3 linked regions of the Homo sapiens genome follow. The protein of the gene in region 2 interacts with the protein of the main gene of each other region in a biochemical or structural test. Each region holds a gene or a part of one and is shown on either strand. Other genes may lie near its edges.

Region 1 (3,754 bases), on a different chromosome or scaffold from region 2:
TTTTGTTGTTGGCACTGAATCATCAATAAGAACAACTGCATTAAGTATTGATTTATCCTCCTCTTCTGGAGAGGAAGGTGTACTGACTATTTCAGGTGTAAGGCTAAAAAAGAGGAATTAAACACAAATCTGAATGTGTAAAATATATGACAAACTGAAGACAGCGATAAACACTTAGAACATGGCTTCATTTGAGTCTCCTATACTTCTTTCAACCTCTTTCATTATATTAAAGTTATTTTGGATCCTACGATTCTTATTTGGTTTATCTAATCTCTCATAAAAGCCTAACTTTGCATCCTTTCCTCATTTAACTGTTTGCAACTTCATCACTGTTTAGCAAACCAGTTTTATTTAGAAATACGAGCAACTCTGAGTTAGGGTCAAAGAATCATTAAGAGCACAGACAGACATGGTTTCACATCCCAGCCATGTCAACTGTGTAAAGTTGAGTAAGTACATCAATCATTTTGAATCCCAGTTCTATCATTTATAAAGTGAGGGAATAATACTATGTTATGAAGGTATATTATACCAGTAAGTCCTTAATATTGTGCCTAGAACACAGTGTTTCAACGGGTGCCAGCTATTGTGAACATATTATCAGCACTAAATTCATTTAATTTGGACTTGGTTAATATCATTTAAACACATCTGATTCAAGCACTGCTTTGCAAAAGAGAAATAACTTCTAAGTACCATTGAGGAATAAAATGTTATTACATGACAATAAATTCATAATGAAGCTTGATAGAATATCTTACCATTAGAACTTGGTTACTAGTGACCCTGGCATTGCTGTCTTAGCCCCTTCTAACACTAGCAGGATGATCAGCCAGTATATGCCAAAAGTGAATGTCAAAAATAGAGGAGTGCTCTTTTGGTTAAATAATTCAAATAAATTTAGCTCAATTTTCTCAGTCATCTTAAGGAATTTTTGATAGTCTTGAAGTTTTTTCTCTTGAACTCTGAGATTTAGATGGTTTCCTATAGATTATTTTCTTCTGGAAGAAAGACACGCATGTATCTACATATTACTAGTATAAAAGTTCTATGAGCATTTGGGCTTTAGTCCAATCTAAATCATCATGACTCTTACTTCCATTCAAAAAGCTTCTCTCTCAGAGTACACAGTAAAGTGATAAAATTACCTGGTACTAACTGCTGACACTTTCTCTTTCTTTAGCTATTTCCTGATGCTAATTTTAGAACTGATTTGAGGATACATAAAAATATACATAAGGTTAAAATTATGACTTACAATAAATGATCAGATATTAAGGAATTTCTTTTTAATTTGGAATTGAGGGCCTAAGTAATTGCACTGCCAATCTGGTTTACTGTGCCAAGAGTCCAGCGTTCCTTACACAAGGGAGGGGGATGAAAATCCAAGAGAAAAGACATGAGACACTGAATGCAAAGGTCCTCTTTACCTCCGCCTCACTGATAACCAGGTATACACATTATCATCGTCACTACCACCATTACCACCTCTGCCACATGCATTATTTCATTTACATCAGCCTGGGAAGCAGTGTTAACAGCATGGTTCTCAGAGCTGGATTACCTGGTTTCAATCCCAACTCTGCACTTATTCTGTAACACCAGGCAAGTCACTTACCCTTATTGTGCCTGAGAGCCAACAGCAGCAGTGCTGTAAAGATTAAATTAATTAGGACACATAAGCACTTCAAATGGTGCTTTTATATAGTTGGCACTACTAAAAGTTGGCTATTAGCATTATAATTATCCTAACAACAACTCTGGAAAAAAAAAGTTACCCCCAATATTCCTATTGGTAAGTGAGAGAGCTGAGGTTTATATTGGGCTCTTTCTACACACCAAGTTGCCTCCCTATTATTTTTGTAATCTACTGCTTTCTGTTTTAAGGCAGATTCTGACCAGGTATGCTTTTTCTCAAAACAGAAAATGGAGGATGGGGAAGCTAGGTAAGAAAATGTGTGTATGTCACAATGAAACTATTGTATATGGAATAATAACATTTGAGAACTGGAATGGATGGACTTCCAACATAATTTAGGCCAACCATATCATTTTATCTAAAAGAAACCGAGTCACAGAGAGACTAAAAGACATGCTCAGAACCACACAGACAGATAGCTGGACAAGCTGGTAGTGTGGTATTAAAAAACCAGCCTAAAAAGTTATGTTAATTAATTTATTTTATTTATTTATTTTTCTGGGATGCAGTGTTGCTCTGTTGCCCAGGCTGGAGTGCAGTGGTGTGATCTCAGCTCACTGCAACCTCTGCCTCCTGAGTTCAAGTGATTCTCCTGCCTCAGCCTCCCAAGTAGCTGGGATTACAGGTGCCTGTCACCACATGCGGCTAATTTTTTTTTTTTTTTTTTTTGGATTTTTAGTAGAGATGGGGTTTCGCCATGTTGGCCAGGCTGGTCTTGAATTCCTAATCTCAAGTCATCTGCCTGCCTCGGCCTCCCAAAGTGCTGGGATTACAGGTGTGAGCCACTGTGCCCATGCAAGTTATGTTAATTCTAATATTTAGCTGTCAAAATCACATCTGTTTGCTATTTAAAACTTTCTCCCTATCATTCAATTGATCAAGCCATAGTAAAACTTTTACATTAAAAAGAAAATTTTTTAAGAAAGAAAAGAGAAATTAATTGGTACAACAAGGTTTGTAGGCAAATGGCAGGAAAGGATGTAGGTTGTAATTCCCTCAGAGACAGGAGAAACACCCTCTTCTTCAAACTTATGGAGGGAGAGGAGGATGGAAATGACCAGCTTGAAGGCTGGAGGGAAACATAATAAGAATGTGAATTCCCGTCAGGTTCTATTTTCTCAATGAAGCTGGAAGCAAAGAAATTTGCTGAGAGTGAGGGGCAGGGGTCGAGGAGGGGGTTTAGGAAAGCAGCTCAGGCCTGTGAGACTGGCGAGGCACAGCACTGCCTGCTCAGCACAGCTGAGGCTGTCCCCAGAAGTACTGAGTCACACAGGGCTGACAACCCAGTCAGGCTTCAGTCAGCTCACAGCTGTTGAGGAGCTGAGATAAAGTAAGGCTTTGAAGTTTTAGAGAAGACAGCCCTCAGGGTCTAGGGCCCCAGATGAAGTCAAATCTCAGGTAAGTGAGAGTGGCAAGCACAATCTTTTGAAGAGAACAGTAGGACAAACAGGCAGTGACTGTTCTTCTGCAGAAACATCAGCTTCAAATCATGATTTTTATCATTATACACGCCAGCTCAAAAGCCTACCAAGAATGCCTACTCGCTAGTCCTCCCTATTAAAAATGACTCTGTGATTTTGTTAGGCACTACTCTAGCTCACCAAGCTAATTTTTACTCAATAATACAGTTTGTTCTACCATTGCAAATTTGCAGTTTTATATCTATGGTTTGCTTTCTTCTATTATGTGAGGGTACTATGTAACATTTTTACAGCATTTTGGTTTGCACCATAATTGTATATCACATGAAAAGATTTAGTTCCCATCTATGTAACATTCTGTGTGTAATTAGACTGCCATCTATGGAAGACAATAGATTATTTTCATTTCTGTTTTACTTGCTTCTTTTTATTTCCTGCTCAGTAAATAATTGTCTTGAACTCTTGAGAACCAAGCCATTTTAGAAAGTTACTTTCTAAATGAAGGTTAACTATTAAACTTTTAATATATTTCTTAATGTAAATCTTTAATATAAAATGTTCTATGTAATTCTTCACTTTAGAATATATGATATTTGCTTATTCAACATTTGGGTTTGTGAACACATAGGCT
Region 2 (3,754 bases):
GACTCTCTACCCCGGAGCCGGCATCCTCTGTGCGGAGGAGGGAGAGAGCTGCTCTCCCTGCTGAGGCGACAGCTTCCCTGTTAAGCACTTCCTCATTTCATTTCATTGGAACCTACTTCAGCATGTGTGCTGAAAAGGACTAAGACACACACAGATGCACACACACACGCATGCACAAAGACACACAGGCACGTATGCACACTACACAGACACACGCATGCACAACAGTGGTATACACAGACTCATGCAGACACACAAACACGCACACTCACCCCTCAAAACACTTAAAAAAATTAACAGTAATTCCTCAATATCACCAAAGATTGTCAGTGTTCGTATTTCCTCAACTGTCTTAACATTTCTTTCCTTAGTTTACTTGCATTATGATCCAAATAAGGCTGTATATTGTGACTAGATGGTATTTCTCTTTTAAAAAACTTTTTTAAATTAATTTTTTTTTAAGAGACAGGGTCTCACTCTGCTGTTCAGGCTGGAGTATAGTGGTGTGATCATAGCTCACTGCAGCCTTGAACTTGTGGGCTCAAGCAATCCTTGTCTTAGGCTCCCAGGAAGCTGAGACTACGGGTGTGTGCTACCATGCCTGGCTAATTTTTTAAAACCATGTTTTGTACAATCAGGGTCTCGCTATGTTGCCCAGGCTGGTCTGGAACTCCTAGCCTCAAGTGATCCTCCCACCTTGGCCTCCCAAAGTGCCAGGATTATAGGCACGAGCCACTGCACCCAGCCCAGCATTTTTCTTAAATTTCTTTTTTCCCCTTGCAGTTTTCTGTTGTAGGAAAACAAGCTGTTTGTCTTGTAGTGCTTCTCCCAGTCTGGAGTCTGTGAATTATATGCATAGGATGTTCTTTCTCCTGTAAACAGATTGTCATTGTCACTACCTTACAGGGCTGTCAGTGCTGTTACTGTGGCTCTTCCTAGAGCAAACGTGCACTTGCTTCTGCAGGGGAGTGAGCTCACACAGCCCTGGACCCCATGCCAAGGGCTGGCTCCTCCAGCCTGGCTCCTCCTCTCACCTGGAGGCCTCTGAGAGGAGCACCTGACATCAGACCAGCTTAACAAAGTCATGATCCCACATGGTTGCATTCACTTCATTGTTTTCCACTATGCCTTTTCTATAACCATCAACTGTGGTTAGTTAAAAAAAAAAGTTTACTATAGTTTATCCACAACTGTAAAGGATACCAACCTAAGAATTAAATAAAAGGAACTGGGCAAAACCAAGAGATAGATAACAAATCACCTCAAAAGACAGTGTCAAGTCACCGTTCATAAACTCAGGAAGTTGCACTGGAAGAGGTGCTACAATTAAGGCAGGGCGCCCAGGTCATGTAGTCCAAACCAGGACCCTTTGAGAGCAGAAGGGCACAGTTATGCTGGGCCAGCAGGCAGAAACGGGCTGTGCCAGGCTCCTCAGGACACACGGTCGCATGGCTTTAAGGGGTCTTGTTTGTAATACAGCCAGCAGGGCTGGCCGCTCACCACTCAAAATGTCAGCTAACCTCTGAAACAAGGTTTCCAGCCTAGAATGCCCTTCTGAGTGTATTATATATTCATCATATTTTAAAAATAATTTAAGGAAAATAGGTAGAAGGTAACAGTTGACATGATTAAATTTGTTTTAATTGAATTTAAGACTTAAATAAATACAGGTAGGAGCAAGTCTTGGCTCCTCTAAGGGCTAGAAATGCATATTCCCAGAAAATTCATAATCAGCTAATCATCTCGAAGAAAAAACTTGGATTTTTCCAGGCCAGGCCAGCTGGTCTGCCTTGTAGCCGTGTGCCCTTGGACAAGCTGCAGAGAGTCTCATTTTCCTCATCTATAACACATTACCACACTGGTGTACTTACAGAACATGATGACAACATGATTAGCCTGTGCTAGTGAGCCAGGGAAAGAAAGCACACAAGGCTTGCTCTGCCAACTCTCAAGTCCTCCATAAACACCCAATGTCTCAGCAGCACCCATCTGAGGATAGCGGGGGCTCCTACCGCTCCACTGTTGGTGACTAAGTCAGGCGATGACGGAAGCTTCCATCTATCACTCCCATGCACTTTATTCCACCCACATCACTTCCAGAACATCAGCCTCAAAGTTCCAAAGTGAATGTGACTGGTACTTTTGTGGTAATCTCCTTGTGACTTAAAAGTAGGTTGCCATAGTTACCAATCATCTTTGCTGGCACAGAGAGCACAATGTTATTTTAAAAATTAGGTTTGTTTCTTCATAAATTTATTTTCATAAGGGATGCATGATTATTCATACACTGTATACAAATCTAGAAAACACAAAATGTATAGATCCTTCTTAAACCTGCTGTTTGGACAGACTCAGCCCGTTTGATGTGTTTTCTTTCTTTAGCAGGTAAAAGTACATACATGCATGCATACTGTTCAGAAACTTTTTTGTTTTGAGATGGAGTCTCATTCTGACCCCGGCTGGAGTGCAGTGGTGTGATCTCAGCTTACTGCAACCTCTGCCTCCCTGGTTCAAGCGATTCTCCTGCCTCAGCCTCCTGAGTAGCTGGGACTACAGGTGCACACCACCATGCCTGGCTAATTTTTCTTTTTTTCTTTTTTTTGTATTTTTAGTAGAGACAGGGTTTCACCATGTTGGCCAGGCTGGTCTCGAACTCCTGACCTCAAGTGATCCACCCGCCTTGGCCTTCCAAAGTGCTAGGATTACAGGCGTAAGCCATTACGCCCGGCCACATCTAGGCACTTTAGAAGTCAATCCTCAGGCCTATAAAAATGGTAAGGCAAGACTCAGAAATAATTTCTCTCAGAGATTAAAGGTTTCTATTGCTATGGTAGGACATAGAAACACAGCAGTCAGCCATAACATTTATTTCGAATCTCATTTCCTAAACATATGGTTAATATAACAATATTGCGGTTCTTTTCTTTTTCCTTTTTTTTTTTTTTTTTTTTTTTTTGAGAAGGAGTATCCCTCTGTCACCTAGGCTGGAGTGCAGTGGTGTGTTCTCGGCTCACTGCAACCTCCACCTCCTGGGTTCAAGCGGTTCTCCTGCCTCAGCCTCCTGAGTAACTGGGATTACAGGCACACGCTGCCACGCCCAGCTAATTTTTGTATTTTTTGTAGAGACAGGGTTTCACCATGTTGGCCAGGATGGGCTTGATCTCCTGACCTCGTGATCCACCCGCCTTGGCCTTCCAAAGTGCTGGGATTACAGGCATGAGCCACTGCATCTGGCCAACAATGTCATGGTTCTGTCTCAGACGGCATACTAGTACCCATATTTGTGCTAGGATTTGCCTTCAGTGGAATTGGAAAAAACCACATCCTTTTTGCAAACGCCATCAATGAGTCAGCCTGCTGAAGGAGCACCTCAAAGAGCATATCCACCTGCCCTGGGCCACTGAGGACCCCTAAGGAGCACGGCAGTCCTTCTCCAGACCGACACAGCACCCACACCCAGGGCCAGACCACGTGCAGCACAGCCCACATCCCCCAACCAGCAGATGTCCCCAAGGGAGCTGGGCCTGGTACCTTCTGGGTCCTCCTCCCCCCGCTCCTCCCCATCCTTCAGGCTCTGTTCACTGAGGTCGGCCACGATGCCACTGCTGTGTTTCTTCCCTTCTTCATCGCCGGATTCTTCAGACTCGACCCGCCTGTCAACTGAACCCACACATGTCAATGAGAATTCACATCCACTTTATGGGACTTTGAGGAACATATAATAAACACCCGGTTGTAAGTCAAAAGGATTTCA
Region 3 (3,754 bases), on a different chromosome or scaffold from region 2:
GTGTACATACATATATAAGCATACAACACACACACACATATATATATACACAAACACATATATGTAAATTTTAGGCAAGGTTACAAAATGAGGTGTCAGATTATAGAGGATTTTTTAAGTTTGATAGGGCCCTGGGCAATCGGATCCACTTCAGATATCTGCCCTTGAGGTCTTTTCCCCTGCATTATTTCCTGTTGAGGGGTAGGGGTAAAAACCTGGAATAGGGATGAGAGTCACAGTTAGCAGAAGTGGAGGAAGGTGAAAAACTAAGTTGACCCACTTCATAACGGTGCCATCTTTTTCTTCTTCCTTTTTTCTTTTCTTTTCTTTTTTTGCCAGGAGCATTTTTGGCTCAGAAATAGTGGGCTCTGCTTTATTTTTACAGGCTGCAGATGGGCTTCAGGTGGGGAGGGATAGGCTCTCAGAGATCCCAGAGGATCCATTTGAGGCATGGCATTCATAGTGACTCCTTTCAGCCACAGCATGAGAGACACCCTGAAGGAGGATACCCTTTTGTTCCTCTTCTCTCAGAAAAGTTTCAAAATCACTCTAGGGAAAGTCTAGGATGGGGTATGGATTTCCACAAAACCAGGAAACCATGAAGCCTTGGTGGACCTCCAAGGAAACTTGAAGCCAGTTGGCACCTCGCTGTCAACCAGCTGGCTGCTTTCAAACACCCTCCTGATGGGCCCTGCACAGCTGTGTTTTATGTTTCCACGTGGCCTTGCCAGAGGTCCCTCCTTAAACAGACCCAGCTTCCACAATTAGTGTGGACTCAAAACGAGTTAGTTATGGCATACGTGAGGTCCCAAAGGCCTCGTGGGGCTATTTACACCTCTTTGGACTATTTCCAGGACCCCAGATTATACTGTATGCGTAAATTAAGGAAGTCTCACAATCCAACAGCTCTGACTGAAACACACAATGTAGCCATATCTTAGACCCCATTTCCCAATGCTTTTCTTGGCCTCATTTTCACAATTTTACCACCCTGAAAGATAAACCCTCTGTATTCTTAAAATTATGTTTTAGAAAGGAGTTCTCTCTTTCCTGTTCCTGAACGTACCTGGTTTTTTTCCTACAGTACAAAAATTGAGGACTAATCAATTTTCTCCTTTGGCATTAAAGTCATTTAGGACTTTATTTGCATTCACCTGGCCAAGTTATAAATACCATCAAACACCTATATCATGCAGTTTCTTTACTTAAAATAATAAATTGGTTTCACTTAATAAAATACAAAACCAGATGAACTCAACCGGTGTACCCAGCCATTAGGAACATACATTTAGCAGGCAGTGGGGAAAAAAAGCCAAGATGCTGAGAAGGGAGACCACCCCCCAGGCCAGTAAGTACACAGTGTCAGCTCTAGGTCACATATTCTAGAAAACCTCAAGTGGAAATAATTCTTATTTCATTTTTTATCTATGGCTTCTACTGTATACCCAGAGAATCTGAACTTGGTTTTGGTGTTTTCTCTCTTCCCTTCATTTCTCTCTGCTTTTCAAGGCCTTTTCCCTTGGGGCCTCTTCTTGTCTTCACAGGCGCCTGTCTCCAGCCACATTTCTCAGTTATCGATACTGCTGCCTAACAACTCAGAACCTGACATACAGTTCTTTAGTAAACATTTGTTGAATAAGTTTTGGAGCCTGAAACAAGGAAACCTATGATGTATGGAGAAATAATGCAAGTTCAAGAGTCAGGACATTAGCTGAACAAGATTTGATAATAAAAGGGACAATTGTGATGAAGGGCTTTTGATGATATCCTCATGTGTGTCTAACATGCTATATTAAAAGCTTTAAGTATATAAACTTATTTTAATCAATGTGACACTAGACATCATGACCCTTATTTGACAGGTGAATAAACTGAGGCTTTGAGCTCTGAAGTAATATGCCCACAGCCACATAGCTACTAAGTGTAAACTTTACTGAAATTAATATGCATGTCTGTTCAATCCTAAATGAATGCCTTTTTATCCCTTTTGGTCTAGTTCTTCATTTTTTCATCTATTAAATGTGGAAATTTTAACATTCCTAAGTTCTCTTCCAGCTTTAAGATAATTCATATATAAAGTGACACATTTCTCAAGAAAATTTACAGTTCAGTTAGTCTTCCTTGTTGATTAAAATCTTGCAAGAGACAAAGGAATGGCTCTCCAAAGCTGAAAATTTAGAAGCCCTGAAATGAAAGAGGAGAAGAACTTTGGTGCAGCTTGAGCCTTGCAGTTTTTCAGATACACCTAAAGCTGAAGTTACCATTGTCTTTTTACAGCAGTTAACATTTACTGATAACTTATTATGTTCCAGACACTGTGCTAAAAGTTTATATGTATTACTTCACCGAAATCTCAACCCCTATGAGATAGAGCTGTAGTTGTTCTCAATTAACATACCAGAAAAACAAGCTTAACTTGCCCAAGTTCATATTGCTAGCATGTAGGAGAGCTTGGATTCAAACTCAGATATCTTTAACTTTGAAGCCTAAAATCCTAACTTTGAGGTTATATTGTTTTGCATGCCATTTTAGCTTATTTGTCTATGTACATTTAATGTGATTTATATCAATGTCATTTTTGTCATTGATTTTAAAATAAAACCCATCAGATATATCAGGAATCTGCTTAGTTTGCTAGCATATGTGGTGATACTTAAGTATCTCATGATGCATGCCTTTCGGTGCAATTAAATATCTTTGGGTCACTCTCAATCACATGCCTATGAGTTACAAGCTCTGCCTCCCCTTCTCTCTACATATTTCTTTCTGTCCAAAGTGTACAGACTATCAGGCATCAAAAGAAAATAGACAACCCACACCAATGTGGAGATTTGCAAACTCTTAACATGAGAAAAATCTCCATAGAGAAAACATAATGCCTGGGTGGGTGATTGACTTAACAGAAATCCTACCTAAATGTATTTCCACATTCATTCATTCCATACTTATTAGAAGGGATTATTGACACTTTCAGAAGATACAATCTCAGGCACCCTGATAGCAAATTAACTTTTTTATTAAGAAGAATTGAAGTTAGCTGTTATTCTCTACACTAGGGCAGCCTGATTTTCATTTTAGCTATGACTGATATTACATACTATTACTAATCTATTTGCAGGTATAAAGAAAAAATCATATATATATATGTATGTATATGTATATACATATATACATATACATATATACATACATATACATACATATATACATATACATATATATACACATACATATATATACATATATATATTCTGTTTTTACCTTCTGAAAGAAATAACCTCCAAATTAAGCTACATAGGAAGTGTAGAAATGCTCAGAAATGACCCATTTAGATTCTGTAACTATTTGGAGAGAAGAGATTTTAGTAGCTATAATTTTTGATCAAATAAGTATTAGTTCATTTTTATTTTAGTCAAGTACACATTTTGTAAAATAACACCGATAAGGTGTGCTATTTTTCTCTAACCAAACTCTTCACAATAAAATCCAACTGCAATATTCATTTAGAAATTTGATAATGCTCTCTTGTGTGAGTTTTAGGAATATTTGAAACCCCATTGCATATAAATTATATCATGGAAAAGCTGTATAAATATTCTATTATGGCACATGCTGTTCTAAGGATCTGTCAGGATTTCCTTTATACACTCCATTTTGAGTGGTATATAAATCAGATGTAAAAATTCATGTTGGACTGAAATTCAGCACAAAATGCCTCCTCCAGAGGCAAATGCTTTTTTCAAAATGTGGTTCG

What was found.
Region 1: the proteins of PPP1R7 (region 2) and UBXN2B form a complex in vitro, tested with the Homo sapiens proteins (2 studies listed by BioGRID).
Region 3: the proteins of PPP1R7 (region 2) and PPP1R3A form a complex in vitro, tested with the Homo sapiens proteins (one study listed by BioGRID).

Annotation. Positions count from the first base shown.
Region 1 is NC_000008.11:58,442,256-58,446,009, reverse strand, and holds part of UBXN2B (UBX domain-containing protein 2B), read right to left. Parts: intron 104-3,754; coding exon 1-103. UniProt on the Homo sapiens protein: Adapter protein required for Golgi and endoplasmic reticulum biogenesis. Involved in Golgi and endoplasmic reticulum maintenance during interphase and in their reassembly at the end of mitosis.
Region 2 is NC_000002.12:241,153,382-241,157,135, reverse strand, and holds part of PPP1R7 (protein phosphatase 1 regulatory subunit 7), read right to left. Parts: intron 3,661-3,754; coding exon 3,532-3,660; intron 2,119-3,531; exon of another isoform or gene 1,872-2,118; intron 1-1,871. UniProt on the Homo sapiens protein: Regulatory subunit of protein phosphatase 1.
Region 3 is NC_000007.14:113,912,391-113,916,144, forward strand, and holds part of PPP1R3A (protein phosphatase 1 regulatory subunit 3A), read right to left. Parts: intron 1-3,754. UniProt on the Homo sapiens protein: Seems to act as a glycogen-targeting subunit for PP1. PP1 is essential for cell division, and participates in the regulation of glycogen metabolism, muscle contractility and protein synthesis.